Homo sapiens: one gene and its partner. The protein of the gene in region 1 interacts with the protein of each later gene in a pairwise test. Each region holds a gene or a part of one and is shown on either strand. Other genes may lie near its edges. The genes, in order: ITGB6 and FLNB.

Region 1 (15,369 bases):
GATCCTGTCATTTGTAACAACATGGATGAAACTGAAGGTCATTATGTTAAATAACCCAGGCACAGAAACACAAACTTCACATGTTCTCATTTATTTATGGGAGCTAAAAAGTAAAACAAATGAATTCACAGAGATAGAGTAAAAGGATGGTTACCAGAGGCTGGGAAGGGTAGTAGGGGGGCAGGGAGAGGAAGGAGTGACGGTTAATGGGTACAAAAAATATAGTCAGATAGAATGAATAAGATATAGTATTTGATAGCACCACAGGGTGACTACAGTGAACAATAATTTATTGCACATTTCAAAATAACTAAAAGAGTATAATTGGATTGTTTGTAACACAAAGAAAGGCTAAATGCTTGAGGTGATGGGTACCCCATTTACCCTGATATGATTATTACTCACTGTATGCCTGTATCAAAATATCTCCTGTGCACCCTAAATATATACACCTACTATGTACCCACAAAAACTTAAAATTATAAAAATAAAGTAAAATAAAATAAAATGCTCAGTAAACTTCATATAAACTGAAGTTGAGTTCACTTCAAGCTGGACTCTTCCCTATTGCAATAGCGTATTACTGATTAAAGTCTGTTGTTTCCACCTTAACTAGTGTCTGGCTTTGTTTATCTTTGACACTTCGAAGTCTGTTAAGCTGTATGACCTGGGGAATTTACTTAACATCTCTGTGCCTCAGTTTCCTCACTTGTAAAATAGGAGATAAAAATAATACCCCCCCCATAGGGTTGTTGTGAGCTCTGAATGAGTTAACATGTATAATGTATTTAGAACAGTAGGTGTTACCTTAAGTCAAATTAGGTTTAGCTTAAATCTGCCTCTTGGTAAATTTGGCCTAAAGGTTTCTCCATATATAATGATGTAACCTAACTGGGTGTGGAAACAGACTGTAACCTACTTTTGTAATGAGTAACCAAGTCTCAGCCCATCACAGAAGCCATACTTCAACCACGTGTAGGTGGCCAACTGATCAAATCGTGTTCAAATAGGGCAAATGCAGAACTGTAACCAATCTGTTTCTGCATGTCAATTCTGTTTTCTGTACCTTGCTTTCCCTTTTCTGTCCGTAAATCCTCTCCGACCACACAGCACTGCCTGAGTCACTCTGAACCTACTCTGGTTGAGGAACTGCCCAATTTGTGAATTGCTCAATTAAACTCTGTTAAAATTAATTCATCTAATGTTTTTCTTTTAACCCTAATTTTTTTGAGCTTTTGATTGATTTTATTTTTGTTTTTTCTTTTTTATTATTATTATTATACCCCAAGTTCTAGAGTACATGTGCACAACATTCAGTTAACCCTAATTTTTATTAACAATGCAAGCTCTTTAATGCTAGTAAGATATAGCTATTGAAATAAGAAATATATATGTATGTATTTACATATACACATACACACACATCTATATTATGCATAGCAAAGTCAACTGGATTAAAAAAATAAACTTTTCATTGGGTCAGTTATTGACAAACAACAGAGTTCCTTGATACGGAGCTTCGGATATTGACCTAGAACAGGATTGATTAATATGCAAGACCATAAATGTAAATACATTTTAGGCCAAAAAAACAAATACTATTTGAGCAGTTCTTTCATAAACTACATACCTGGAAATTGCAAAGGTCAGATTAAAATTTCAAACTGAACTAGATCCTCCATGGGATTTGTGAAGTCTTGCCAAGTCAATGACACCAAAGAGTGGGGGGTGGGGTAATGGTGGTCAAATCTGTGTCTTTGACTGTCAGGCCTCTCCCAGGACCTAGCTCCAGGAGAGCTCATGGGATGCAAAACTTCTGGGGTGCCATGTTGCTCCCTTGCTGGTTGTGTAACCAAATGAAAAGACAGAAGATCAAGTTTTCCACCCTTTGCCCTGTCTAGAGCAATTCACTTTTGGATTCACTTTCCCAGAAGGCGGAAATTGCAGTGAGCTGAGATCATGCCACTGCACTCCATTCTGGGTGACAGAGTGAGACTCTGTCTCAAAAAAATAAACAAATAAAAATAAAAGAAATTACAACTCTTTCTAAGGGTGCACTCTCACAGGGCATTGTGTAGCTTTTTGTCCTGCTTTATTTTCTGCATAGTTCTTAGGACGGTTAGACAGTCTTAGTCCAGTCTTCTTATATAATAAGAACCCGAGCAAGGTTATGTGCTAATGTTTTATTGAGGGGTGCTAGCCCAGTGAAAAAGGGCAGGGAGGCAGCTAATGAGGGAACGCAGGTACAAGGTGAGGCATTTGGAAGCTGGCCACTGCTTCCCCAGAAGACATCGCTGGTGGCTCATCTCCTGTTCATCTGCTGGTTCCTTCTTATCTCTGTCTCTTATGGATCTACATTCATTCTTCAGAGTGTTGACTCCCCTGAACCTCCCTGTTGTCTTATGTGGTCCCTTGGGGCAGCAGCTAGGGAAGCCATTCTGGACTTGGGCACAGGAATTGCAGCAGCTCCTTAACCTGTTAGGAGTTAGGAAGAAGCTGGGGTTTTACTACCAAGGAGACTGTGCAGGTTGGTGCTGGGGTAACTCCTGGCATAGGCCTGGAAGGCAGGTGGGACCAAGTGGATCTGGGGTCTGCACAAACTGGGTCCAGGACCCTGATAATGTATATTTACTTGTTTATTATTTTCTCTCTCATTTGGAAGCATAGAGATTACTTGTTTTGCTCATTGTTCACTGTATCCACAGTCATAAGAACAGTGTCTGGCATATACCAGGCATTCAATAAATATTTGTTGAATGAATTTATTGAGTTGCTACTGTGTCAGGAATTGTTATAGCTGCTAGAAGACACAAGAATTCCACCTCCCAGATGGAAAAATTAAGACGAGAAGGGACTTTCTTGGTGCTATTCAAAATGGGAGCTGTTTCTCTATTTTCAGACATTTGGCCTTTAGTTTACAAGAGACAGTGTGTTTCAGAATATAAGTACTCTTGATTTGACTTTGCCTGTCTTCTTGTAAGAAATGGGCCTAAGAGAAAGATTAAATTGACTCCTTTTTCCAGCATTTGGTCTCTTTGTGCTTCATTTTCCTGATTTAGAAGATAAGCATGGCACCATGACACCGAACAAATGGATGTGCAGAAGAATAGACTCCCTGAGCGCGTGAGTGTGCTCAGGCTGCTGAGCAGAGCACCACAGACTAGGGGGCTTCCACAACAGGAATTTATTTTCCCTCAGTTCTGGGGGCCAGAAGTCCAGGGTGCAGGTGGCAACTGGGTTGGTTTCTTATGAGGCCTCTCTCCGTGGCTTGTAGTTGGCCACCCTCTCCCTGTATCTTCACATGGTTTTCCTTATGTCTGTGTCCTAATCTCCTCTTCTTATAAGGACACTAGTCATAGTGGACCAGGGCTCAACTCCATCGCCTTATTTTAATTATCTCTCTTTTTTTTTTTTTTTTTTTTTTTTGAGATGGAGTCTCACTCTGTCACCCAGGCTGGAGTGCAATGGCGTGGTCTCAGCCAACTGCAACCTCTGCTTCCTGGGTTCAAGTGATTCTCCTGCCTCAGCCTCCCAAGTAGCTGGGACTATAGGCGCCTGCCACCATACCTGTCTAATTTTTGTATTTTTAGTAGAGACGGGGTTTCACTATGTTGGCCATGCTGGTCTCGAACTCCTGACCTTGTGATCTGCCTGCATCAGCCTCCCAAAGTGTTGGGATTACAGGCATGAGCCATCGTGCCCGGCCTTTAATTATCTCTTTAAAGGCTCTATTTCTAAGCACAGTTATAGTCTCAGCTACTGGGGGTTAAGACTTCAATACATGAATTTTGGGGGGACAGGGGCTATTGGGGGTGGAAGGTGATACATTTCAGTTTATAGCACTAACTCTAAAGAACTTGACTTTACAAAATGGTGATGTCCAGGCCCGCTCCCTGCTGTCTCTTGCCTTCTGTGGCTGCCTCCTTTTGCTCTTCTCCTTGGCCCCAGACCAAGACCATCAAGGCAGTCAGAACAGGTCACAGAGGAATCCAGAAATCCAAGAAGAGGGTTTTGTGCCAAGCAAATAAAAGAAACTATCATCCATCTAAGGTTCATTGTTTAAATTACCATGTTTATTTATATCAACACAAAATACAATAATAAACACGACAAAACCATTTTATCTTCATGTAACATAACTCTTCAGTGAACAGAAGTACTACTGTTAATGTTTTGGCCTTTCCAAGGTCCTGCCTGGGGTCAAAACAGTATTCAGAGAAAGAGCAGATTCTTCTCTACCTTCCCTAAAACACACACAAAGGTAACTTCTATTTTCTAAAATCCCATTCCAATAATAATTAAAAAAACAACAGTAAGTCCACGTAGAGGAGAGGATTGCTGTTGTGTTATCAGCATTGCAACCTGTATATTGCTGTAGATTTCCCCCAGGTTCTGCGCATCAGTCAGGAACATAAAGGGTATATCAGCCCTTCGGATTTTCAAGGTGATTTTTCAGTAATTCTTTCACCTAGCCCTGTACTCTGTAAAGGTCTGATTTACCTGAGTTATCTAGAAACCAGCAAAAAAAGAGTCTCCAAGTGATCAAAGGTATATGGATCTATCTTGTAGAATTGAAGAAACTTATAGATTTTGCTGTGACAATTCAATGGACAACCACGAAGCCTCCACTACATAATGAACTATTCACCTAGTAAAAGCTTCACATTACAATTTAATCAAAGGTAATAAACATTGCACAAAAGTACAATATCTCATCTATATGCCAGCAGTTTAAATGCTATTTGTTCAGTCTCGAACATTTTCAAACAAATGACAGTTATCACTTAACTAACACAATCTTTCTATTATTTCACTGACAAAAGAGGCAGTTTCCTGCAGTGGAAAGAGGAGATGGCTTGGAGTTAGAAGAGCTAGATTCTGAACCCAGCTCTACTCATTCTGAGCCTTAGTTTCCTTATGAGGATCAAGTGAGACGAAAGTGCTTTGTAAAGGAGTAATAACCACAAGAAATAATATTCTAGAGTCCATCTCTTCCATCAACTGATGGATCCCTAATTTGCACATGTATTTTGCAAGTAAAATCTTACCTCTTAAAGTAAATATATGATGCATATTCACCACATGCAGCTGAAATGTGCAAGTTGGGTTACATAGATGGGAAAAGAGTATGTATTAAAAAGCCTTTAAGACTTGTATACTCTTGATGTGCTTGATTTAGAGCCATTTAAAATTTTATTGTGTTTAACACATGTTCCTTTTATATTATTGGATCGCTCTTTGAATAAACTAAGCATTTAAAGTAATTTTTTTTTAAAAAGAAACTTTGGTATGACAATTACAGGGTTTAAAAGACTGTGCAACTGAGTGAAATGGATTGAGAAATATGGGAGAAGTAACAGTTTGAAAACTCAGAGTCAAAAAGGAAACAGTGTAGAATATCGTTTTTCAGGTAATTTAAAAATAAGCTATATGATAGGGTTGTTATCTTTTTATTTTTATAGGTAACTTCTTAATTTATAAATTACTTATTCCTTATTTGTAAAACAAATAAAATATTTGTGTACTTAACGTTTAGGTGTGTATAAATTCACAAAAATTATTAACACTTAACTTTCAACCTTATATTTGAGATATCTTCAGAAGAATTGCAACCTTTTAGCTGAAATAAACTCAGAATCTCATTTCTCAGAGATTTAAAAAAAATTCTCCTTTAAGAGAGGGCATATTTCCTACAAGTTTAGAATTAATTGGCAAGTATAGACACACAATGTGAGTATATGGGCTTTGTGACTTTGCCGAGACAAAAAACTCAGGTAGCTGCATTCCTGAAACAAATGAGACTCTAATTTCAAACATTTTTCAAATGCAAATCAGGCCCCCATGAATCATTTGATGATTTTTTGAAGCATTAATGCAACAGAGTTAGTATTCCTCAAATGATCCCCAAAGTCATCTCTTTGCTAAGGATATTTCTCTTCTTGATTATTTTGAAACTGCCAACAGTCTGTCACCTTCATGTAGAGGATGACTTATCTGCAGATGTCCTATTATTATCTTAAACCAACCTCATTTTGAAGCAACAAAGAGAAAAAAATTAAATAGTGCATTAACATTTCATATCAGTGAAACAGACTTTTTTCATGCATAAAGTAGTTCTAGCAATCTGTGGAAAGGTCTACCTTTTGTTTTTCCCTGTGTTTATAAGTTACATTTTTAAAAGTACTTGTGGATCCTCTGTAGAGTGGATTGGTTCCCTGGAAAAAAAAAAAAGATTCAAGTGAAAGTATGTATATTTTGTTTTTATACTGTTTTAATACGTAGTGCAAATTGGAAGAGGAGAGTCAAGCTCAGTCTTGGAAACCATTAGAACAATTTTGATTAATTTGGCATTTCATATGTTTAGTGTTTTGCAATTTATACATTTTCATTTTGTTAAATATACAGAACAAGTCCCATATGTATATTCTAAAAATCTTACCTCTTTTGGTAATGCACAAATTTACGGATAGAAAACAAGGCTTCAGCTGTTGTGCTCACTGCTGTTTTCCCAGCACTGAGTCCCTGGCCCAAAGCAGGTACTCAGTATGTATGGAATGAGTGGCATGAACAGTGACAGATGAACCAAAAGTGAAATCAAAGCCAAAAAAGTAAAAAACAGGAAAAGTGAAACCAGTAGGAACATACAAAAATGAACGACACAGTATCTGCCTTTAACAAACGTGTTACTCATGAGAGGCATCAAAGAAGGGCACAAATAATCATGCTAAGATGAAATCAAAACTCAGAAGTGGGAGAAAGTAGTTGCTTGGGAGGAGTGAGGAACCATCCTCTGGACAGCTAACACTTGCCCTGGGTAGCCAAAGAACCAGCTGTCTTTTGCTTACTATGTACAACACTGTGTAAGACAACCACAAGAGACTGGTATGGAGGACCCTGGGGTCATGAAAGAGTTGCAGTCCAAAGGCAGGCCAGGAAAAATGGCTTTGCCTTGGGGGCAGTGGGAAGGTTGGGTGTGGGACTCTTGGGTAGCTCAGCTGTGCTGTTTGGGTTATAGATGTGCCTCCAGGTGCCAATAGCAGTGGTGCTGTAGCCAAAAGGACCAGAAGGTCCAGAAGGATCAAGCCTCTCTAGTTGTTCCAGGCCGGAGGAAGGTGTCTGGGTAAGGTACAGTTTCTTCTCTCCCACTTTCCAAGGCTGATCACACAGGCTATGGCAACAGTCTGGGTCCAAACCCAGCTCCACCACATGACCGTACTGAAGACACTCTGAGCCTTGGTGTCCCTATCTGTTCCTACCTCGTCCAGGTAAAGTATTTTAGCACTGTGTGTAGCACATAGCAAATGCTCCATAAATGCTGCCTCTTCTCATTAGTTCCTATTTATAGCTTTTCTTCACATTTGGAATTTCCTTTTCTTTTAGGTTTTAGAGAGGATTATTAAGATATTTTCCCCCAGGGCTTTGGTACACTTAACATTTCTAAGCCCATTACTGAGTATGTATGGAATCCAGGTACCGCCTCTGACCTTCTAAGTTAAAATCTTATACTTTGATCACCTCATTCCATGAATTATAGCTATGGTAGAAATTTCTAGGGGTGGATTTGAAAAAAAACCTTAATTGTCTTTGCTTGCTCAGTATATTTCTTTCAGCTCTTAAAAGAATTGAATAAAATCGGAAACACTCCCCGGTCTTTCCCACTCACTGGCCTCAGTGCCCTCATTGTGAGTGGGAATCACACCTGCACCCATTTCTATGTTGTCCAGAGCCAGTGGCCTGACCTCTGACTAAGTGACATGCTACTTTTGTTATGTGCCTTTAAAGAGATATGCTATTTCTATAATAAAGCCAAACAGAAAAATGTTCCTTGGCTGGTGGTGGATGATGGGTGAAAGCTAAGTTGGTATATTGCTTCTATTCCTGAGAGCAGCCTGGTTAATTCTGAGGGACCTCCAGATCTTATCTAGTCTTGCTGCTCTAAGAATTTGAGATTTTGAAGGCAAAGGGCAGACTGATGTGAATTTAGATGTAGATGGAGTCTCATTTGCAAACAAAAATCATGCATGGAATTCTATTAAATTTGAGACTAGAATCTAGTTGGTTACAGGAGAATGAGAGACTCCATTGAAGAAACAAGATGGAAAAAAGTAAGAGGTTCAGGCCAGCAATGACAGGGTAAGCCTGTCCTGGAGGAATTTCCCACTTCCTCCAGGAAGCTCCCACCTTTGTGAACAGAAAAGACACTTGGAAAGAGGACACAGGCTGTGAGCAGGGCCAGCTTAGAGCTCCGTAGGACCAGATACTTGTTTGTAGGTGCACCCTATATCATGTCAAACATACTACAATACACCCATATCCCACACTTAATATAACTGATATGCATTATAGAGGAGGTGACTTGAATTGCAGTTGACAAGATAACACAATGTTATTTAGTAGATATTTAGTTGAATGTTTAATTTTGATGGCAGAGTTTTCATTCCGTATTTTAAAGCAACTTCATTCATTCAGGTTTGCAATATTTTGGGAGTCCCTTGCAATACTGGTTTAGGGCCAAGACATTGCTTATAGGGAGTGATGGGTAAAGCAGACTTCACTAGAGTAAGAGGGTAAGGTGGAAGTGTAAAAGTGGACGAAGAGCAAGTACATATTGCTGTTGTGTGTAATAGGGTATTTCCTGGCCTCAGCTGAAGATCAGAGGTCAGGATAATGCACTCACATTGGGTTTTGTTCCAGGAGGAGGTGTGGAAATGTCCACACTGCCTCCTCTAGTGCTCTGCTGATTGTAACCTCTCTACACAGACTTTCCAGCTGAAATGCAGGCTTGAGTCCTACTCTATTTCGGGTGAGTGTGCAATCCACTGCTCAGAAAAGGTCAGTTTTCCCCTAACCATTTGGGGTTACCAGGCTGATTCCCCCAGGTGTCTGGGAGTGCTAATTTAGGCTGTGGATTCTGCAAATGCAATGACACATTTTTCAAGATTGAAAAAGTGGTAATAGGAAAACTCTGTCATGACCCACAGCTTCCTTAATGATCGCCCAACTGCCAAACACAGACCTGATTTGCTTAGCACAGTACAAAATCAATTCATGACTGCAAGAAATGTCAGGCTGAACATTTTTTTGCCTCAAGTTAATGACTTGTCATCCTAGAAAAAAAATTCTAATCAAAGATGAATTTAAATATGTTTCATTTGTGTTTTCATAAAGAATATGTGGGGGTGGGCATTATTTTTTAAAGCATAATAAAAAAGATAACCTTTCTTTACAGCTGCTCTGAAATGTTTTAGGAGGTAGGAGTGAAGACCTTTCTGTCTTAAGCCCTGTCACTTTATGAGTCCAGTGCAGTCCTATGGCCAGGAGGCCTGACTGTCCCTATTGTCTCTGGAGGGCACTGGGTTTCAAAGACCAGTCAAATTCACTTCTTCAAGAAGAAATAGGTTTTAGGGAAAAAACTCAGTTAAATTGAAGACCCCTAAATGTGTGCAGTGAGCGACATTTTTTTCCAGTAGGATGTTAGTGAAATTTAAACTGAATTATTTGAGTTAAACCTTTTTTGCATCCAAGTGAATAATTACTACCCAGTCATTATCTAGTCAGGAACATCAAACATTTGTTATTCAAAGAAACTCAATTTAATAAGGGAATAATATTTTCCATTTATGCTTTTTTTTCTGTTTAATGCATGTTCGGGTCGCATGTTAGATGAAGAAACAGCAAAAATTCAGCATTTGAATTTCAGTCATGTTCTACATCCTGAGGGAGAACAATTCATGTTTTTGGGGAAATTAACTGTTAATTAAAATGTTATTTTAAAGATATTAATCACTTGTCAGTATTTATGCCTCTGTATGAGAACATTGAAATGTGCTGGTTAGTAGATACACATCACATAATTGCCCAAGTGCGTGTTTGTGGAACACCTGCTTATTATTTCCAGGAGGGTCAACCAAAGGCTGTGCTTAGAAGAACAATGAACAATTAGGCTTCAGCTTAACCATGCACCAAAAGTTAGGGAAGTCCCTTAACTTCTCTGAGCCTTAGTTTAGCTCTTCAAAATGGAAATACCAGGATTATATCATGGGGCTTGCTGCTATTGTCCTTTGTGGCAACTTAACCATATTCTTTTACCTGGTTGCCCTTCTAACCATGGCAAGGCATTTGTTGGAGAGTTGATGAAAGTCAAAAATAACATCTGTGGCCAGGGGTCAGGTGAAGTGAACTGTCCTACAACTTTGGGCTCATTAGTACTGTGTTCTAAGTCACCAAGCTAACCTGTTTACCTTTTACATTGTTAGGGATGAGTAAATTATATCTTCTCCTGAGGAATTTTGCTTAATTATGGAAAATACACACATTCGCAAAAAGAGGAAAGCTATATAACCAACCTCCAAAGACCCATCGCTCAGATTCCACAGTTATCACAGTTCTGCCACACCTGCTTCAACTATCCCTCCATCCCACTCTCTTGGCTGAATTATTTCAAAGTGAACCCCAGCTTTCATTTCCTTTCACTCCTTCAGTATGCATCTCTAAAAAATATGGATATTTTCTAGCAATGTCACCATGCCATTATCATACCTAATCAAATTAACCATACTTATTTGCTATCATTCTAATACCCAGCATGTATTAATCTTTTTTCAGTCTTTTTATGTATTTATTTATTATTTATTTTGGAGACTGGGGCTCACTCTGTCACCTAGGCTGGAATGCAATGGCATGATCATGGCTCACTGCAGCCTTGACCTCCTGGCTCAAGTGATCCTCCTGCCTTAGCCTCCCAAGTAGCTGGGACTACAGGTGTGAACCACCATGCCTGGCTAATTTTTGTATTTCTTTTTGTAGGGATGGGTTTTGCCATGTTGCCCAACTCGAACTCCTGAGCTCAAGTGATCCAATCCTCCTGTCTTGGCCTCCCAAAGTTCTAAGATTACGGTGTGAGCCACCATGCCCAGCCTTTTTCCAGTTGTTTTAAAAATGTATTTTTACAGGTGGACTGTTCAAATCACGATCCAAACAAAATCCATACATTGCATTTGGCTGTTGTATCTAAATGCATTTTTAATGGGAAGATAAAGTAGATAAAAATTTTCAGTGTTCATTGTCCTGTACCATGTATTATCATTAATTTAGAATAACCGCATACAACAGAAACATCCCTTATCAAGATAAATTTATCAAAAATGGAAAATTCCATTTGCTTTAGGAGTTGAAGGCATTGCTATAAAAATTGTTAACATCAAATTATTTGGGCGGACAAATCCAAAGGAGCATTGCGTCTACCTGTATTTTCTCCAGTGATATCATTGTTGTTAGAATCAGCAATGTAAGATAATTGCTGTTAGATACCTGGACACACCATTAGAGATAGAGAGATGAAATTAAAACTATGGAATTGTTTCTATGGGTCTCTAGAAATGTAATTATCTCTCCTGTGGAAAAGAAACACAGAAAACTATAGTCCTGCCTTCTGATTGCCTCTTGTGAAGAGAAGGCAGTTAAATTATTTCTGTTGAGTTTATGTATTTAAAGGTTAATACTTTTGGGGTTTTTTTCAGGTCTCTGTTTAAAATTTATGTTATTCAGAAAAAATAACTGCATGGCATTTTAAAAATCATCTCAATTTTGCTTTGTAACCTATTATATCAGAAACAAGTATTTCCAAAGAAATTGGCATGAATTATCGTACTATTTATGAACACTATTCCATTCATTATAACATAACCAATTTATGGAAATGTTTAGATATAGCACCCGTGCTTTATCAAATGGGGCCTGAGGGATACTCCTAGTGGTGAGGAAGCGCTGGGTAAAAATATACTTCCCCAATGTCCCTAAGCAGCTGTCTCAGGAGCCTCATGAGACCCTTCATCGTGGTGGAAATCCCCACCGCACTAAGACAAATATAAGCTATGAGGGTCATCTGGACCTTTGCCCCTGAAGCAGAACAGAAATCAAAGCTGTTGGAGTCATGGCGAGAGTGGGAGAGAAAAAATGTGACATTTGAACTCCCAGAGCAGAAGAAAGCTGAGCCCCTCAATCTCTTCCACCAGCCTCTTTCTCCCCTAGACAAGGAGTAGCCCTAAGTTTCCACATACCGTTTGCCACTTGGCTTTTGATCGTTCTGCTTCAAATTTGGCAACTTCTTTACGATCATGAAATGACACCAGTAGCTTCCAGATGCACAGTAGGACAACCCCGATGAGAAGAATAGCCAGGGAAACCCCTAACATGATCATGGGAATGTTTGGAGGCTTCGGACAATCTGCAGAAATAAAGAAAATTATAAGAAGGTGGTAAAATCAACATTTTGACATCGGAAAGGCATTTCTTGTTGGATTTTCATCTACATTTTCTGCAGCAGAGGATAAATATTGACACCATTTTCGCCTTGCTTAAATTTTAAAAATGAGTTACTTGTTGAAGAATAGCCCTGCATTCCTCAAAGTAGAACAAAAGATAAAGGAAGAATTTAGATATTTGAAGTAAATGGATATAGACTTGATGGTTGACTCTAAAAGAGAATCCAAAAGAGTGATAATTAATGCACATGGAATATTTAAAGGATTAAGAAAAAGACTAGTTTAATCACTAAACATGGTCTCTTCTGAGTTCACGATAAAGCAGAAATGGAGTGTGTGTGTGTGTGTGTGTGTGTGTGTGTGTGTGTGTGTGCTGCATGTCATCAGTTTTTCATGGACCTTCTTGAATCATGGGGAGTCTAGAAGACTATATTAAAAGTTATATAAAAACCTATCCCTTGGAAAAAATTACTATTTCCTTCTTTCTTTATAGACAGAAGACAATGATGGGTTTCAGTTCTGTTTTGTTGAACCCTAATGCAGTAGTCTGGTTTTGGGGAAGTTCCTAGACTAGATTCAGGAGAGGTAGATTCAATTCCCATCTGATGTACAGTAGCTGTGTGAATGTGATCCAGTCCCTTGACCTCTCTGAGCCCCAGGCCCTTCCTCTGTAAAACAAAGTTCAGTGTTCCCTTACCTTTTCTGATGATACCAATAAGCTGAACTGTTCTTGCTTACTAACACAGCTTCCTGGACCCCTTCCCCAATATTCTGATTCAGTGGGTCTTGGATAAGCCACCGATTCTGTGTTATTAAATATTCTAAATTATTCTTATCCTCAAGCAAGTCTGGGAAATTAGATGTTCTGTAGGGTACTTTCAACTTGAATATTCTATGAAATGTTATTTTGACTGTATTGAAGATATTAATGTAATTTTGCAATTATACAGTACGTTTCCTAATTCACAGCAGAATGACTAATAGTCCTTGCAATATGCCTAGGAGATGATACATTTCTTAATGAAACATTATAATTATGTTCTCCTCTTACTTTCATGGAAAAAAAATCCCACATAAAATTATCATTAGATATCTGCATCTCTCTGCAAGAAATGAGGCAAAATCCATGGGATCTGGGGAGGAAATGAATGATGTTTAGTTTATCCTAAGTCTTACTGCTTTTAGATATTTAATAAGGAGAGTTATACACATATGACTAGTCATGCTGTCTTTAAGGTAAGGATCTGGAGTTGATGTGAATCTGAGTGGGGCTAATTACCCACTAACAGCATGATGCCTGGCCTCACACACTTTTGTTCTTTGGCCAAGAAACCATGTAAAGAGATTATGCAGAAATAAGTAAAGGAGCTAATGACATAGCTATTACTGTATGAAGATCTAAAGACTATATTCTCGCATAGCAAATGAACCATAGCTGCCTCTAATAGGTGAGCACATTCCTGCAAATAAAGCGGCAGGCCTGTGTCATGAGAATATATACTGGCTACATCTTTGGCTAAGAAATGCCTGGGGTGGGGCATAGTATGTTCCTGTTCAAAGCAAGATGAAGCTTGCTACAATCCTGCACCTAGACATGAATTAGGAGGGTTCTCCAGGAGGGACTAAAGAAGAAATGGGTGCGGTCTGGCAGAGATAATTATTTTAAGAACTGAAAGTCCTCAGGAATTGTACATTTCTCAATTAAAGATGTTGGCCCAAGTGCCAGAGCAGGTCTTACACAATAGAGATCATCACTTTTCATACTTGGATGTTTCTTGAGATGCTCAGACTGAAAATGGATTTCTACGTGGAAGAAGAGGGTCACCTCTATCACTGTGGGCAATGTGGCCCATCGAGTCCAGGTTGGTGCAGCACCTACTTCTAAGGTCCTGAGTATCTAACTGTGCTACATGCGTTGCACAATCTGGTAGCTCAATGTGCATATTGAGTGCTTGAAATGTGACTTTTCCCAAGTAGCTTATGCTGTAAGGGTGAAATACACACTGATTTTGAACACTTGGCATGAAAAAAATGTAAAATATCTCAGCTTTTATACTGATTACACGTTGAAATGACAATATTTTGGATAACATCGTAAATAAAATTCATTTTACCTGTTTCTTTTACTTTTTAATGTAATTACTAGAAAATTTTAAATTACATATAGGGTTTGCCTAACAGTTCTGTCGGATGATGCTGATCTAACATCTTTTTGTGATTCAGATAGTTATGATGATTGTACAGCCAGTAGGAGGCAGTAGAGCACAGTGGTTCAGAGCAGGGGCTCCAGGCCAGGCTGCCAGAGCTCCTCCAACTAGCTCTGGCACGTAATTACTGCCAGACCTAGAAAATTATTTAATGTCTCTATGCCTCAATTTCCTTACCTTTAAAATGAAAATAATAGTGGTACCTGTTTTATATGGTTGTTAAGAATATTAAGCGAATTAATACATGTAAAATATATAAAACAACATCTGGCAAATGGTATTAGGGCTCAAAAAATGAGAGCTGCTATTATAATAATTAATATTACTATTGTTACAGCAAATACAGCACTCTTTCCCCTTTTCTATCCTCATCACCTCAAGGGCCTGGAGCCTCCAAGTTGGAACCTGTGGGTATAGCATCTACCCTAGCTGGTACTTTCCAGCCAGGAAGCCTTCCCGCCTATCATTCCTTGACTCTGTTGTGGCTCTTATGCTCTGGAAGTCCCTCCGGACTGTGGGGGAAAGAAAGAAGATGAAAGAAGCCACCTGTGTCCACAAGCACCCTGGTGGCGACCCTTCACTCAGTTCTTTTTTTCAATTTGCTTAGAGGACCCTGGGGATCAGCCCCTTTCTCACTTCTCAGTTTGCCTCTTCTACCCAAGCCTCCACCAGGCCACCCTGGGATTTTCTAGTCTGAAAGCTGTGAGACGGGAGACAGGAGGGACCATGGACCTCTGGGGACAGGTTCTGCTCTGCTGGCCCCTGGAAGTGCCAGGCCTACCCAACCATGCGGACATTTGTTGAGGAAGAGGGAGCCTGGAGGCTGTCAGGTGACTCTTGTTAAGCCTCCGGGAGGTTATGTTTCCCCTCACTTTTCCCTACTACAAAAGCATGGGGAT
Region 2 (15,369 bases), on another chromosome or scaffold:
AAACATTCATGGAAAACCCTGACATATTTTCCAATTAGTGCCTCTAGTGGAAACAGACAGAATTGATGGCTTAATACAATCTAGTTTTGTTTTGTTTTTTGGTAGGGAGAGTAGAGGGTCACAGATCCCTTTAACACCATGACAGACATGGCCAATTTTTAGTAATTTTGTTGTCAGGTGAACCAAGAGTGTTTTAGCTCGAAATCCTCTGAAATGTAGGGAGGGGAGGAGGCAGAGGCTTCTGCTCACACACCACCACATCCAGTCTCCCTTTTCTCTTTATTAACAGGACCATAACTCTTAGCTAGGTGCACCGCTCCCAGAAGATGGGAATCCACTTCCTAGCATCCTTGCCACTAGGTAATGTGAATTGTGACCAACCCCCAACAAATCAGAAGGGAATGGAAGTCTATGATGGACTTTTGGCAGGGCTGCTTAAGAGAGCCCACTGAGCTGGGAGGACCCCTTTTTCCCTTCTTTCTTCCTCCTTCTGGCCTGCCATGTGGATGTGATGGCCAGAGCACTGGCAGCCTTATGGTCCAGGAGGAGACCTTAAGGACAGAAGCCACATGCTAGGTAGAGGAGCAGAGAGATGGAGCTGACTTCCTTGGTGAGCTGCAGGGCACCCAGGTGGCTTAGCCTGGGGTTCCTTAACAAGAGAGAATAATCTCATTTATTTCAGCCACTCTTATTTTAAGGTTTACTGTGATATGCAGCATAACTTAGTCTTAAATGAACCAAAGAGTAATTTAAAACATTTAAAAATAAAAACATAGGGGACGGGCACAGTGTCTCATGTCTGCAATCCCAGCACTTTGGGAGGTTGAGGCAGGCAGACTGCTTGAACCCAAGAGAGTTCAAGACCAGATTGGGCAACATGGTGAAACCCCATCTTTAAAAAAAATAAAAATAAAAACATAGGAATAGATGTAGTAAAAAAACATGAAAATTCACCAAAAAGTGGTTCTTGGAGCTACACCCTCAAATCTCTCAGGTGAGCTGCTTCTGCTTCTGCACATTTACTGACTCTTTGGTGGGAAAATCTAACAAACAACTTGCATTGAGTCAGAAATCGGTTATTGAAACCCTTGTTCTTAAATCTGGCCCAGAAATTAAGTCTTAGGATTAAGGTTTGGCTCAGAAAATAACTCCAAGTTACCGTTATTTGAACAGCAAGCAGGCCTTCCCCGGCATCTCGGGCATCAATTGCAAAGTCCACAGGTAGACTGGCAGGCACACCATAGGAACTAAGGCCGGGGCCACTGGCAGTCACTTTGCTGGCATCATATGTGGGAAGGACCTTGACCTTGAAGGGACTTGATAGACACACACACACACACCCTAGTCAATAAAGATACATGTCAACCCAGCTGCATCTGACTTTTCTTACACATAAGAGTGGGATGGAAAAGGGGATTTCTACAGCAGATAAGACAGTGAGTTAGTCAAGGTGCCTAAGTCTAGCAGAAATTTACAACTATGAGGTAGTAACCATCATATGACAGACTGGTTTTGTCCTGAGTGTGTTCCAAGGCAGCGGTCCCCAACCTTTTTGGCACTAGGGACTGGTTTCGTAGAAGACCAGGGGGCCTGGTGGGGGAATGCTTTCAGGATAAAACTGTTCCACCTCAGATCATCAGGCACTAGTTAGATTCTCACAAGGAGTGTGCAATCTAGATCCTTCTCATGTGCAGTTCACAATAGGGTTCGCACTCCTATGAGAATCTAATGCAGCTGCTGATCTGACAGGAGGCAGGGCTCAGGCAGTAATGATGGCTCACCCACCACCGTGCGGCCCAATTCCTAACATGCCGTGCACCCACACCAGTCCACGCTCCAAGGGTTGGGGACCTCTGTTCCAAGGGATACAAGTAGTTTGGGGAGGAAGAGTTCACAAATTAGTTTGGGAAACACAGGGTTAAACACATTTACCCCACTTTTGTTATGCTAAGATCATGGTCACCAAATGGAAAGAGAATACTGGAACTTCAGTTTTAATATTTATATCTCATCTTATTCTATATTCTGTATCTATAATTATTCTATAGTATGCTTCATATGGTACATGGTATATTAGTAAAGCAATATACAAATGTAATTTATAAATTACATATTTCTACATAGAGCTAATATGCTTATCTCTATATAAAATATGTGTTAGGGGATATGGGTGAAAGTTTTTCATCTTAAGGGGCATGATTTTTTAAAAAAAGAAAAGAAAACCCTTAGAGATTGTTCCAAGAGGTGAAGAGCTTATGTAACATTTTTTTTTGTATTAATATCAACAAGGAACAAGGTTTCTATGTAAAACCTTTTGGAAATGCTTTTATCAAGCAAACCCTGAAGTAAAGACCTTTGTCCTGTCCCAATCAGAAAACTACTTGCAGGTTCACCAAAACACCAAAAGGAAGCCTCTAATAAACTAATAAATTATTTATTTCATCAATGATTGTCTACTACTATTGCTTTTTTTTTTTTTTTTTTTTTTTTTTTTCCAGAGATGTCAGGGGAGGGTCTATGTTGCCCAGGCTGGCCTCAAACTCTTGGGCTCAAGTGATCCTCTCATCTCAGTCTCCCAAGTAGCTGGGATTACAGGCGAATCCCACCACACGTGGTTAGGATTTCCAACTTCTTAATTTCAGCTCACCTTTAAACTAAAGATGTCTGAAAGGAACTGGGGGAGTGAGAGAGCGGGAGCCACAAATATCAAGGCTAGTGTGTGGTGACAAGTTGCAGGTTCTATGTAATACTTGCTGCCTCTATGAATGGGTAGACGGACTGATGGAGGAATGGATGGGTGGATGGATGGAATGATGAAAGAATGGATGGATGGATGGACTGATGGAGGAATGGATGGGTGGATGGATGGACTGATGGAGGAATGGATGAGTGGATGGATGGAATGATGGAGGAACGGATGGGTGGATGGACTGATGGAGGAATGGATGGGTGGACAGATAGACTGATGGAGGAATGGATGGGCAGATGGATGGAGCTTACCTGCGAGGAATCTCTTCATCAGCATATTTAACTGAGACCATGTAAGGTCCCTCCTGAGATGGGGTGTAGGTTACTGTGTGTGTGCCATCTCCATTGTCCACCACGTTCACTGGCTCCACCAAGCCTGAGGACAGAGATGAGAGGTTTAAGGAGCTGCCTGGCCTCACCTTTACTCCACCCTTGGCTGAGTCTGAAATAGGACCACATCCATCCCCAAGAGCTATTGGTTTCCACTGATGAGTAACAAAAAGGCCAGCAACCATAATCACAGGCCTGAAAAAAATCACAGGATCCCCAATTCATGGTTGCAGAAATGACCCCGAGAGACACCTTTAGCTTTTTGTTGGCTAAAATACACTCAGTCTGCCCTAGAGTATAATTAAGGAGACTGCCTGTGCTTGCTGCTGGAGGGTGTATGTGGATGATGTGTGTTGAAGACACAATATAACCTTTCAAGCTGGTTAGGCACGCTTAGGATGTGGCAATTTTACTCTACAGCTGAGACACTGCCAAAGAGTCCAGAATTGTGAAGAGCAAAAATTAACCAATGGGCTGGCTAGTCAAGACTTGTGGCCACCTTTGAGCAAAGAACACTGTGGTACCAGCATGCTGGGGCATAGGTGCAGGGCAGGTGAGGGTGCCAATCTCATGGGGCAAGGGGACCCTCAAGGTGAAGCCTGTGGAGATGTTAGAGATTATGCTAAAACATAATCAAGGCACGCGTTGGGTTGCAGAGTCCAGATCCCAGCTTCCAACGTGACAGTCAAGGATGGGTCAACTCCAGGGTAGGTTAATCAAAGGATGGCATGCTCATTAAGCAAAGCAGATGAGGCAGGTGTAAGCAATTTTAGAAGTGAGGCCAGCAAGAAGCATTTGGGTTACATAATTCAGCAGCCATGGGAAAATGCAAACCTGTCTTATTAAAGTCACCCTTCGGGTCACCTTTAAAGAACTCTGAAAGGGCTTTCAAGGGGCTGCGCCATGACTGGGAATCCGTGTCGTCAGCTAAAATCAAAAGGCTGTTACTTGAGAGTCCTTCATAATAGAGGCAGATATCCAAGTAAAGCTTCTCTTTCTTCTTTTTCTCCCTCTCTCATTCACACATACACAGGGACACATACATGCACACAAACACATGCAGGTCCTGAAGCTCAGTAACTTCACAGAATCTGATCCCAGACCCATGACCTAATTTCCCCCAAACCATTTCTGCCCTGAGCTTCAAAAGATAAAACCTCCTGCTGAACCCCATGAAGGAGAAGGTTCCTCTTCAAAGAGGGAAAACCCCATTTGCCACTTCTGTGAATCCAAGAACATATCATTGGCGAGGAAAATCCAGATTACGTAAGAAATTAGGCACACTGTCCTCTATGTGGGAGAAAGGCACATTTTAAGTGCTGGAGGAGGAAACATGGTCACTTATCAAAAAAGGCAAGTTCCAATGCACTTCAGGGCTTTGTCCCTATATGGCCCGCTAGCCTTACCAAACCCAAGTTCCAAGCTGCCAACAAGGCAGGCCAAATTGCCAACAAAGCCCATTCCCCAAGACACACTCTCTCTCTGGGGAACTAAGACAATGACAAAGCCACGTATCACGTGCATCATGTGCCTGGCATTCCCAGAGGTTCTGGTATGTACCACATGGACACCAAGATATCTCAATGAGTTATCACCTCCAAACCCCACCATCTGCCACATCCAGAGCAACCCACCCCCTCACAAATGCTGAAACACATAATGAAACAGTCGCCACCATATTACATATGACAGCCCAAATACTGCTGCTTCCTCTAAGAAATTGATAGCCATATTATTAAATGGGGGGACAGATCACTGGAGAAATAACAAGCCTGCTTACTTGTAAGCAGGAATTTCTACTGTTTAACTAGAAATGAAACAATAATTTTTTTTAATTTAATTTTAAGCTCATGAGCAAACTCAAAAGCAAAGCATCTGCTCTGGGTTACAGCTGCCCCTGCCTGGGGCAGATGAATGTCTGCAGGAAGGCAGGGTGCACACTTACCTCGTGGGCCCAGAACCCTCACTTCCAGCGGAGCCAGGCCAGCCTTGCTGCTGTCCACCGTGAAGGACTGCAGGACACGGGCTCGGACGCCTGAGCCCAGCCCGGGGCCGGCAATCTTGACCTTGCTGGGGTCCACAACATCCTTCACAGGAACCCTGAAGGGGCTGCCTGGAAGAGAGGTTGTGGGATTCTGAGCACAAGCTGGGAATTGGAGACCACCTTGTGCACACCCAGAATAGCACTGCTGCTCCCCCGGGACCTCGGCCATGCAGGCCTCGGTCAGCTCCCCCTGCCTCACTGTGTGCACTGCTCATGTGCCTACTCATTGTTGTCAACCATTCTCACAGAACACCTACTACGTGCAGATGTTGTGCCACGTGCTGGATCCTGAGCGGTTAACACCCCCCAGGAACCCACAACTGCAGGAGAAGGATGAGGCAAGCAAGTCACTCTAACATCCTACATAACATATTTGGGGTGTGGAAGGTGGAGCACTCAGGAGGCAATTAACCTGGTCTGCGGGAGACCAGAGAAAGCTTTCCAGTAACATCTCAGTTGCGGCACAAGAGGGAGCAGACAGAGAGGTGCTTCAAGTAGAGAGGCCTCAGCACATGCAGGAGCCTAGAGGCGAGGGAGGAGACAGGCTGCTGGAGCAACTGAAGGAGGAAGCCAAGTGGTGGAACAACAGAACGGAGAGAGATGGGCAGGCCCTGCAGCCCACATCCAGCCCTGTCCCCCACACATGGCTCCTGTGTGTCCCCCAGACTCCTCTCCCTCCAATGCAGCTGGCACCTTCTGACCACACTCAGCCTTCTCGGTCACTCGGCCACCTGGTGAAGCCTTGCCGTCTTCCTGAGTGTAAGCTGAGCTCCTGCTACATGGCTGACCCCCCGGGGGACCCTGAGGGCCTCTGACTCCTTGAGGGTGTCAGTTTTAAAGATGAAGCACAGAGGAGTCGAGGAGAGGAGATAGTGATTTGCTAGAGAAGTGCTAAACAGAGAAACAAGGGCTAGGCCAAGGACACTCATGGACTCCACTGTGGAGGGGGACCTCCCCATCCAGCGAACGGCAGCATGCCTCAGGCTACCACGCCCATCACCAAGGGGCTACGTGCACCTCTGCCTCGCATGGGAGTCCTGGTGCTCCCCATGGTATCTGGCAAAGTTAATGACTGCCGTGAAAGCTGAGGGATCTCTGCTTTGCATCCCAGAGAATTTATACTTTGTAGAATTAGAGATGGTAGACAGCCAAGACACACAAAGAATTGAGTCCCTGGCTTTCTAACAACAGCTGGGTTTCAACGGCATCCAGGTCTTTAGCTACGTGAAATAAATGGCTGGCCCTGGCAAACAAGCACAGGCCTCCACACTGGGGTGAGAGGAACAAAAGGGGGCTTTACTTTAGAGAGTGACAGTTGAGGATTTCAATGTCAACAGCTGATGGCAAGGGACTACCTCTGAGGCCAATCTTTAAGTCAGAGCCTCCACTAGAAGTTGTCTGAGCTCAGCATGAGAGTAGCCAAAAACCAACAAACCCGGGTAAGATAAACTGTCCAAGATGGCAGACCCCAAGCATTATCCGCCACTCCCCTGTTCCATGCCCAGACACATGTCACCATTCCCTCATGCCAGATCTTCTTCCTCATGCACTCTGAACCCCAGTCAATCCAGTGGTCTAGGGAGCCGCCACCAACCAACCACAGCTGGCCTACCACAGGAAATCAACATGCCATTACGGGTAAGACAGGACACGTTGTTAAAAATAACTCCACTCCGGGTTTTTAACCAGGCCAGGAAAAACTAGGCTAATATTTAAGCACCCAGAATTACCATGAAAGCAAATTAGAAGGTGGCAGGTAGCCGACTGTTTCCCGGCAGTACCCCCATAGGTTGCCTTAGCTAAGAAGCCTGATGCTTAGAAAACCAACCAACACTTCACTAAATATCTCTGCCTGGGAAAGTTCTGGGGTTCTGGAAAAGCCGGCATTTGGCTCTCTGGGAGGCAACAGAGAGCCTGAAACATAAAAAGGCACCATCCACACCTGATGGGAAAACCACAAATGAGTGTCTTTCTGTTGTTATGCTCAAAGACGACCATTTGCTTTAAGCTCACAGGTCGGCCACAGGGGACAAACTCTGACCCCTTTCTGTAAGGGGGATTCGGAAGCTGGTGGCACTCACCAGCCTTTCCCCATAGTCAAAAAGTTTCATTGCCACAGGAGATGTTCATCTCCACTGTTGCCTGCCAGGTCGGAGCCACATCACCCCTCCTGGGAGCAGCCTTCTACCCGTTTCCTGTGCCCAACTCTCTCCTAACGCAAGTGTTACAAAACTCCAAAACAAGCCCGTAGCTCTGAATTCTGTCACCGAGCCCCATTCTCATTCTTCATAGCAGTCATCACAAGTTTTAGTTGTAAAAGCCCTAGACAGTAAGCTCCCTGAGGGCAGGAACTTTGTCTTGCCCACAGCTGAAGTCCCCTAGACTAGTGATTATAGGAATTTTTTAAATCTATATTGAATGAGCCGCAAGCACAAGTTTGAGGAGAAACATGTTGTTTTAAATGACTTGAGGCTTAAATGAGTATCTGAGTAGAATCAGTCTGAGTTGAATGTCAATACTTTCTGATCAGTGTGAGAGAGAGTGAGTGTGAGTGTGTGTGCACATTTCCATGTGGTAAGGGGGAAGCAGGAATGGAATCAGGAAAGCGTGTGGTCAGTGGACACTCCAGCTGCCTGAGAGTTAACCCAGAACCCAGCAGTGGGCCCCTCAACCTGCCCTTCCCCTCTCAGCGTGACCCAGAGAAAGAAGAACAAGACCCCGCTGAGGCTCTTTCTGCTCCTGGGGTCCTGGGGTGGGGCTTTGCCCTCTTCACACCACACCTAAGACAAGGCATAAGTGGCCCAGAACAGCCCCAGCCCTCGGTCTTCTGTCCACACCACACACTTGCCTGCCCTTTTAGAAATGGGGGCGGGGGAGGTGGTCTCAGAATTCACCACTATAGAATTCATCCATGTAACCACAAACGACTTGTACCCCAAAGCTATTGAAATAAATAAATAAAATGTGTGGGGGTGACAATCATTTGAGTAGATAACTAGAACCTATGGAGAGTCCTCCCCCCAAAACAAATGGAGGAGGGTCTTTCACTACTTAAGTCATATATTTATTTATTGTTTGAATCTTTACAGCAGTGGTTCAGGCTGAAGTGATTTTGTCCCTTAAGACATCTGGCAAGATATGGAGACATTTTTGGTTGCCACAAATAAGAATGGGGAAGGAGAAGTCTGCTATGGGCATCTAGCAGGTACAGGGCAGGGATGCTGACAAAAGTCTACAATGAACAGGACAGCCCCACACCACAAAGAATCATCTAGCCCAAAGTGTCATAGTGCCGGAGTTGAGAAACCGTGTTTCACAGTGATTACACATGACATCACTAAATACAAAAGAAAGAATTTGAATCTGCATATCTTGATCAGCTACTAGTATTGTCAGTGAAAAAAAAGAAACCAAGACACATGAATAAGGAGCCAAGCACAAAATAAGGTAGAAATTTTCTTTCTTTTTCTTTTTTTTTTTTTTTGAGACAGGGTCTTCCTCTGTCACCCAAGCTGGAGCGCAGTGGCGCAATCTCAGCTCACTCAACCTCCCAGGCTCCCATCTCAGACATCGTCCCATCACAGCCCCCACCCCACATAGCTAGGATTACAGGCACGCACCATCACACTCAGCTAAGTTTTGTATTTCTTGTAAAGATGGGGATTCCCCATGTTGCCTGGGCTGGTCTCAAACTCCTGACCTGAAGCAATCTGCATGCCTTGGCCTCCCAAAGTTTGGGGATTACAGGTGTGAGCCACTGTGATTTTCAACTTTGTAAAGAACCAGCTTTCCCCTGAATCAAGAACTAGGTCCTCCAACACACGCACAACTGTTTCCAGTCAAAATTCTAAGCCGATGCTTTTTGCCATGTTACCGGTTCTACTGGGAGTTGAGATAATCTTGGAGATGTAGCCCTAAGAAAAACTCTCCTTTTGCAGCTATTACAAATATCAGATTGTTTTCCCCACTCAGAGAGATAACCAAAATCAAACCCATTTTCCTGCAAAATCAATTATTCTCTGGGGTCCTCTCTGAGGAATAGCTCACCGGGGATGTGGGCTCCTCCATATGTGATATTAACATCGTAATCCCCCGGTGCGAAAGGAATGTACTCAGCACTGCAGCTGCCATCCTTGTTGTCTCTGCAATTTATCTTCGACTCTGATGGTCCCTCAACAGTTATGCCAAGCCCACCAATTCCTGCGCCTCTGGAAAGAGTGGAAAAGAAAGTGAAATGTGCACCATTTATTTATGCTGGTCTGCTTATTGCCAAAATTCATGCAAATTCCCTTTATAAACTATTCCACGTAGCCACCCCAACTCAATTACTACACCTCTCACATAGGGAATTTCACATTAGTATAATGTAAGTAAAGACACTCTGACCCCTCATTTTCAATGCTTATGCTTCATTTATTTTTCTTTTTCCTGAGACAGAGTCTCACTCCATTGCCCAGGCTGGAGTGCAGTGGCGCGGTCTCGGCTCACTGCAACCTATGTCTCTTGGGTTCAAGCAATTCACATGCCTCAGCCTCCCAAGTAGTAGCTGGGATTACAGGCGTGTACTACCAAGCCCAGCTAATTTTTATATTTCTTGTAGGGATGGGGTTTTGCCATGTTGGCCAGGCTGGTCTCAAACTCCTGGCCTCAAGCAATTGTCCCGTCTCGGCCACCTGAAGTGCTGAGATTACAGGTGTGAGCCGCCACACCCAGCCTATTTTTCTTATCTAATTGCACTGGCTAGGACTGCAAGTACAACGCAGGCATATGCCTTGCAACCAACTTTAATAAAAATACTTACAAGGTTGGCTACAAATTTTTACATTATCAAGTTATAGAGCTTGATTGACTCCTGGTTTGCTAAATAGTTTCATGACCATTATCAAGTGCTTTGGTATGTTTTTTAGGTATGCTTGGTCTTTCTATGTAACATAAGTCTCTACAGAAGGAAATACATGTTATAAAAATAAAAATTCATCTTATCAAAAGTTAGGAAACCATGACACATAGGTAGAATCTAGCCACAAAAGTGAGACTCAAGACACCAAATGTAGGGCCTTGCCTACCTGGTAACCACGGTGAAGACATTGGGCTTGTTGGTAAAGGCCTCTTTCAATCCAGGTCCTTGGGCTTGCACCCTAGATGGCTGGCAGCCTTCAGTGACAGCCACCTTGAAGGGACTGTTTGGGATAGGCACGTCATCATATGTCACCTCCACTACATGGAGACCTGCTCAAAACAACAAACAGAAACGCATATTTGCATACAAATCCCCTATTTGTGAAAAATGATTCTCTACTTCAGAGTTTCATCTAGCATCGAAGTCTGCATGCTATACTATGTTATTTGGAAAAGGGGGTTAAAAACACAGTAATGTGGCTGGGGGCAGTGGCTTACACCTATAATCCCAGCACTTTGGGAGGCCGAGGTGGGTAGATCACTTGAGTCCAGGAGTTCAAGACCAGCCTGGGCAACATGGCGAGACCCCATCTCTACAAAAAATACAAAAATTAGCTGAGTGTGGTGGTGCACACCTGCAGTTCCAGCTACTCAGGGGGCTGAGGCAGGAGGATCATTTGAGCCCAGGAGGTTGAGCCTGCAGTGAGCCGTGATCACACCACTGCACTCCAGCCTGGGCAACAGAGTGACATCCTGTTTCAAAACAAAACAAAACAATCCCACAGTAATGTAGGTATGATCTGACTTTTAAATAATACAAACCGTCTATCTGCAGTCACATAAGCCACTCCACCCCAACCAAGCAAATATTCAAGTCAGTCATCCTAAACAGACTACTCTCATTCGGGAAAACACCATCCAGCCATTAACCAAAAGAAAAAGCGAAACCCGTGAAACAGAAGAAACAGGCATCCACAAGAAGACTGAAAATATCTATATCAGAATATCGCAGGCTTCCGATCTCCAGGTAGTGGAGATATACATGGCACTTTTTTTTCTTTATGGTTTTCTATTTATTGAAATTTTTTATAATTCCTAATACTCAAGAAGAAAGAAATTCATACGCAAAGAAAAATGGCACAAATGAGCAACATCATGACATTACCCCATAACTTGCTGAGGTGAGACTGAGGCTAAACCCAGCCCACCTATTACACAAGGCCAGCAAGCCAGGCACTGAGTGGGCAGGTGACTGCAGCGGACGCTGACTTCCACTCTGTCACTCTGCACGTGGCCCTGCTGAGACAGGCCTAGCACATGGGGCAGGCATCAGTACCAGCCACCAGGAGGCAATGACCAAGGGCAGCTCTGAACGAGGGTCCAGTCCGAGGACAGGGCGGCTCACCTTTCTCAAAGGGTGTGTATTCCACCTGGTAGGTCCCATCCGCATTGTCTGTGACAAAGCACTCGGTGGAGGCCCCTGAGGGGTTGGCAATGTGGGCCTTGATGTGGTCACCCCCAACCTGGGTCAGCGGCCGAGAGTCAACTGTAAAGTCGGTGGTAGCTTCCCGGAACACATCTGCAGAGCAAGCACATAGCTAACACTGCCACCAGTACCCCAGACCCAAAAGCAAACCCCAGAACCAAGGTTCTTGGCACTTCAGGACACATGAAGTCCAATTTCAGTAACTGGAAAACTGGTTTTTCTAACTCTCAAATCAAGAATATTAACCCCCTCCATCCCAAAGAAGGCCTTTCTAGAGTAGCCACGGCTAAGTGACAACACGACTGCTCACACCGGGCTCGAGGACAGGTTAAAGGTTGAAGACTAACCTGCTGTGTGGCATGCAGGTGTTAGACAACACTACATTTTAAACTTTTTTCCAATTAAATGCCAACATGTTGTATGTTGAGTTTCCAGAGAAAAATCAAGATTTCTGCCTTTGCCAAAAAACTAGAGATTCTGCTGACAATGCTAGGTCCTGTTCCCCATGGAGAAACAGAAAACAGGGGTTGAGTAGCACGGTCCCCAGAAATGCAATGTGCTTAACCTTCACCAGGGCCCCCCAACTACTCCCCGAGGCAGAGGGAACAGGTGAGCACCGCCTTATATGTCACCTGGCTCCTGCAGGTGGCTGAGTTTGCAGCTCCAAGTTTCAGGTAGCCCTTAAGTCCCAGCTTGTCTTTTTTTTTTTTTTTTTTTTTTTAAATGAAACCCACCTTTCCCTTCTATTCCTGGTCCAAAGACTTTGATCCTGCTGGTGTCCACGGCGGGCTCCACCTTGACCCGGGCGGGGAAGTGTGGCACGAGTTCGCCACCATACTTCATGGTCAACGTGTACATGCCGGCCGTCAGGGGCACGTAGGTCACCGCGTAGGTGCCATCTTTGTTGTTCTGAATACTGACTTCGGCTTTTGTTCCCGAGTCCGAGACAGCTTCCAGGCCCAGGGCCCCCGGTCCCGCTTCCGAGCAGTCGACGCTAAGGAGGCCAGCTTCACCCACCTTCCCGTGCTCGAGACCTGGCCCCGATGCCACGACTTTAGAGGGGTCAAAGGGCATTTCAATGTCAGCTTTGAAGGGAGACCCAGGTATGTGGACTTCTTCAAAGAGGATGTTGACGAAGTACTCCCCGGGTTTTGTGGGAAGGTAAGAGACGGAGCAGGTCCCATCACCATTGTCGGAGCACTCGATTTTGGCCTCGCACGGACCTTCCACCGTTAAGCCCAGACCTCCAGTACCAGCTCCTTTGGTATCGATGGTGAACTCGGCAGGCTTGCCCACGAGACCACCTTCGAGGCCGGGACCGTGGGCCTTCACCTATTTGAGCAAAGAATAAAGTCAAACTGCACTGGGATCGCTGCTCAGCCAGCACTGCTTTCAACACCCATGCATATAATCAGCATGGAAGTGCATCTGAGCCAGGCAGCCCTTCTCTTGGGGCTTTATGTGTCACACGTGCACACGAGTTAAAGCTACAACAGTCAATGCAGCAAATGCCTCAGAACTCAATCACCAGCGAAAACCCACAGGAGAGAGGTGTGACCCCCATGGAGCAGCCCCTCCAAGACTCTCCTCTCTCCTACCCAACCTGACCCTTCTAAATCACAGGCCTGGACTTGGAAACCTAATGTCCATTCCAACAAAGATACACGAGATCCCAGGTTGAGGGCTCATGGAAGGGCTCTTGTGGAGCTAGCTGTGGCTTGGGCTGTTGCAATTTGCTCAACAAATTCTGCATAATAATAAAACTAAACTGTTTCTAAAAAAGAGTGAGGAAGGAGGCTTTCACCTCTAATTCAACAAATAAGACACCTTCATAGGATTCACACCATTGAGACCACTGGAAATCTTCCAAAACCCCTTGAGTCAGGGTTACTATGAAGAAATGACGATGAACTTTTTTTTTTTTTTTTGGAGGGGACGGAATCTCACTCTGTTGCCCAGGCTGGAGTGCAGTGGCACAATCTCAGCTCACTGCAACCTCTGCCTCCCAGGTTCAAGCGATTATCCCACCTCAGCCTCCCGAGTAGCTGGGATTACAGGCATGCGTCACCACACCCAGCTAATCTTTGTATTTTTAGTAGAGATGGGGTTTCACCATGTTGGCCAGGTTGGTCTCAAACTCCTGACCTCAAGTTATCCATCCACCTTGGCCTCCCAAAGTGCAGTGATTACAGGCGTGAGCCGCTGCGCCCAGCCAAGAATAATGTTTTTTTTTGTGGTTTTTTTTTTTTTTTTTTTGAGACGGAGTCTTGCTCTGTCGCCCAGGCTGGAGTGCAGTGGTGTGATCTCAGCTCACTGCAAGCTCCGCCTCCCAGGTTCACACCATTCTCCTGCCTCAGCCTCCCGAGTAGCTGGGACTACAGGTGCCCGCCACCATGCCCAGCTAATTTTTTGTATTTTTAGTGGAGACGGGGTTTCACCGTGGTAGCCAGGATGGTCTTGATCTCCTGACCTCATGATCCGCCCGCCTCGGCCTCCCAAAGTGCTGGGATTACAGGCATGAGCCACCGCGCCTGGCCAGAATAATGTATTTTTATATTACATGATTCTAGCTTCTGGAGGGTGAGCTCCGTCTGTGAGCTGGGTGCTGGGCAGAGGCCTCCACGTTTGCTAACTCACCTACCCCTTACAGGCTGGCTTTGTAGTGAGGACTGTGATTATGCTAACAAGCGAAGAAAGAAGACTCTGGGACAGGGAGCCCCTCACCAAAGTCTTGTAGTCAGAGAGCAAGAGGAGGAGCAGGGTTGTGACCCACCTACCCAGGGGACCTTTCACAGTGAATTGTGCTAACTTTCATCACAAAACGATTTTCAGAAGGTCTTTGCCAGGAAGAACCAGAGAAGGACTATGGTGTCATGTTTGACAGCAATGAGACAAGTTCTGGGACAAAAGCAAAGGCTGACCTTGCTGGGATCTGGTGGCAGCGAGGCCTCCACTGTGTAGGGGCTCCCGGGCACAGGGTGTCCATCGTAGGTCACGTCTACAGCATACAGCCCCTCCTCCCGAGGGATGAACTTGGCCGTGCTGTTCTCCCGGCCTGTCACAGGTGTCACTAGGCATGGCACGACCTTCCGAGAGGGGCTGAGGATTGTCACGTCCAGCTTCCCCTGGCCTCCTGCCCCCCTGGTATCAACGGTGAACTCCTGATCCTTCCCAACTTCCACCCCTGGAAAAGAAACACAAGCTGAGGTGAAGAGCTGACCCTTTTCAGCAGCAGGAACAATCCAGAGCACAGAAGCAATGGTTCTTTGGACACGGGGACTTATCTCAGCCTCCACTGTAAGCAACAGCTGCTGCAGAGGACAAGCAGCAAAGCTGAGTAAGTATCATCAGCATCTCAGCCTCAGTAACAACAAGTGTCGGCACAATAATCAATTAGTGATGACAGCAATAACGGCTATCATTTACTGAATGCATTTTATATGCCAAGCACAAATAGGTTATTGTCTTAATTTTCACCACAATCCTATGGGGTATTTATTATTAACCAATGGCTTTCACAGATGGGGAAACTGATGCTCAGAGAGGTTAAGTAACTTGTCCAGGGTGACATATGCAGCAGCCTGCCAAGCTGGGACTCAAAGTGAAATTTACCTGACCCCACAATCTTTGCTGACCAGAAAGTTGTAATCTGACACTGTCGTCTCTTATTTACTTACTTTTGGTGTTAACTTGATATCCAAACACCCTCATAAGTCAATGTTTTATTTACTAATTCTTGGCAGCCAACTCCATCTTATAGGCACCCCTCCCCCTCAAGAAAGCAGAAGTCACAGAGCTGCCAAATGCGAGCCGATTGAAGCAAGTGCTGAGAACTGACTGTACCGTGATGGTTTCCAAAAGG

What was found.
Region 2: the proteins of ITGB6 (region 1) and FLNB interact in a two-hybrid assay, tested with the Homo sapiens proteins (one study listed by BioGRID).

The regions. Positions count from the first base shown.
Region 1 is NC_000002.12:160,095,620-160,110,988, forward strand, and holds the end of ITGB6 (integrin beta-6 isoform a precursor), read right to left. Parts: intron 12,227-15,369; coding exon 12,060-12,226; intron 6,216-12,059; coding exon 6,117-6,215; 3' UTR 4,052-6,116; downstream 1-4,051. UniProt on the Homo sapiens protein: Integrin alpha-V:beta-6 (ITGAV:ITGB6) is a receptor for fibronectin and cytotactin. It recognizes the sequence R-G-D in its ligands. Internalization of integrin alpha-V/beta-6 via clathrin-mediated endocytosis promotes carcinoma cell invasion.
Region 2 is NC_000003.12:58,120,563-58,135,931, reverse strand, and holds part of FLNB (filamin-B), read right to left. Parts: intron 14,692-15,369; coding exon 14,429-14,691; intron 12,840-14,428; coding exon 12,242-12,839; intron 11,601-12,241; coding exon 11,427-11,600; intron 10,352-11,426; coding exon 10,189-10,351; intron 9,331-10,188; coding exon 9,170-9,330; intron 5,192-9,169; coding exon 5,024-5,191; intron 4,006-5,023; coding exon of another isoform or gene 3,913-4,005; intron 3,125-3,912; coding exon 3,001-3,124; intron 1,317-3,000; coding exon 1,160-1,316; intron 1-1,159. UniProt on the Homo sapiens protein: Connects cell membrane constituents to the actin cytoskeleton. May promote orthogonal branching of actin filaments and links actin filaments to membrane glycoproteins. Anchors various transmembrane proteins to the actin cytoskeleton.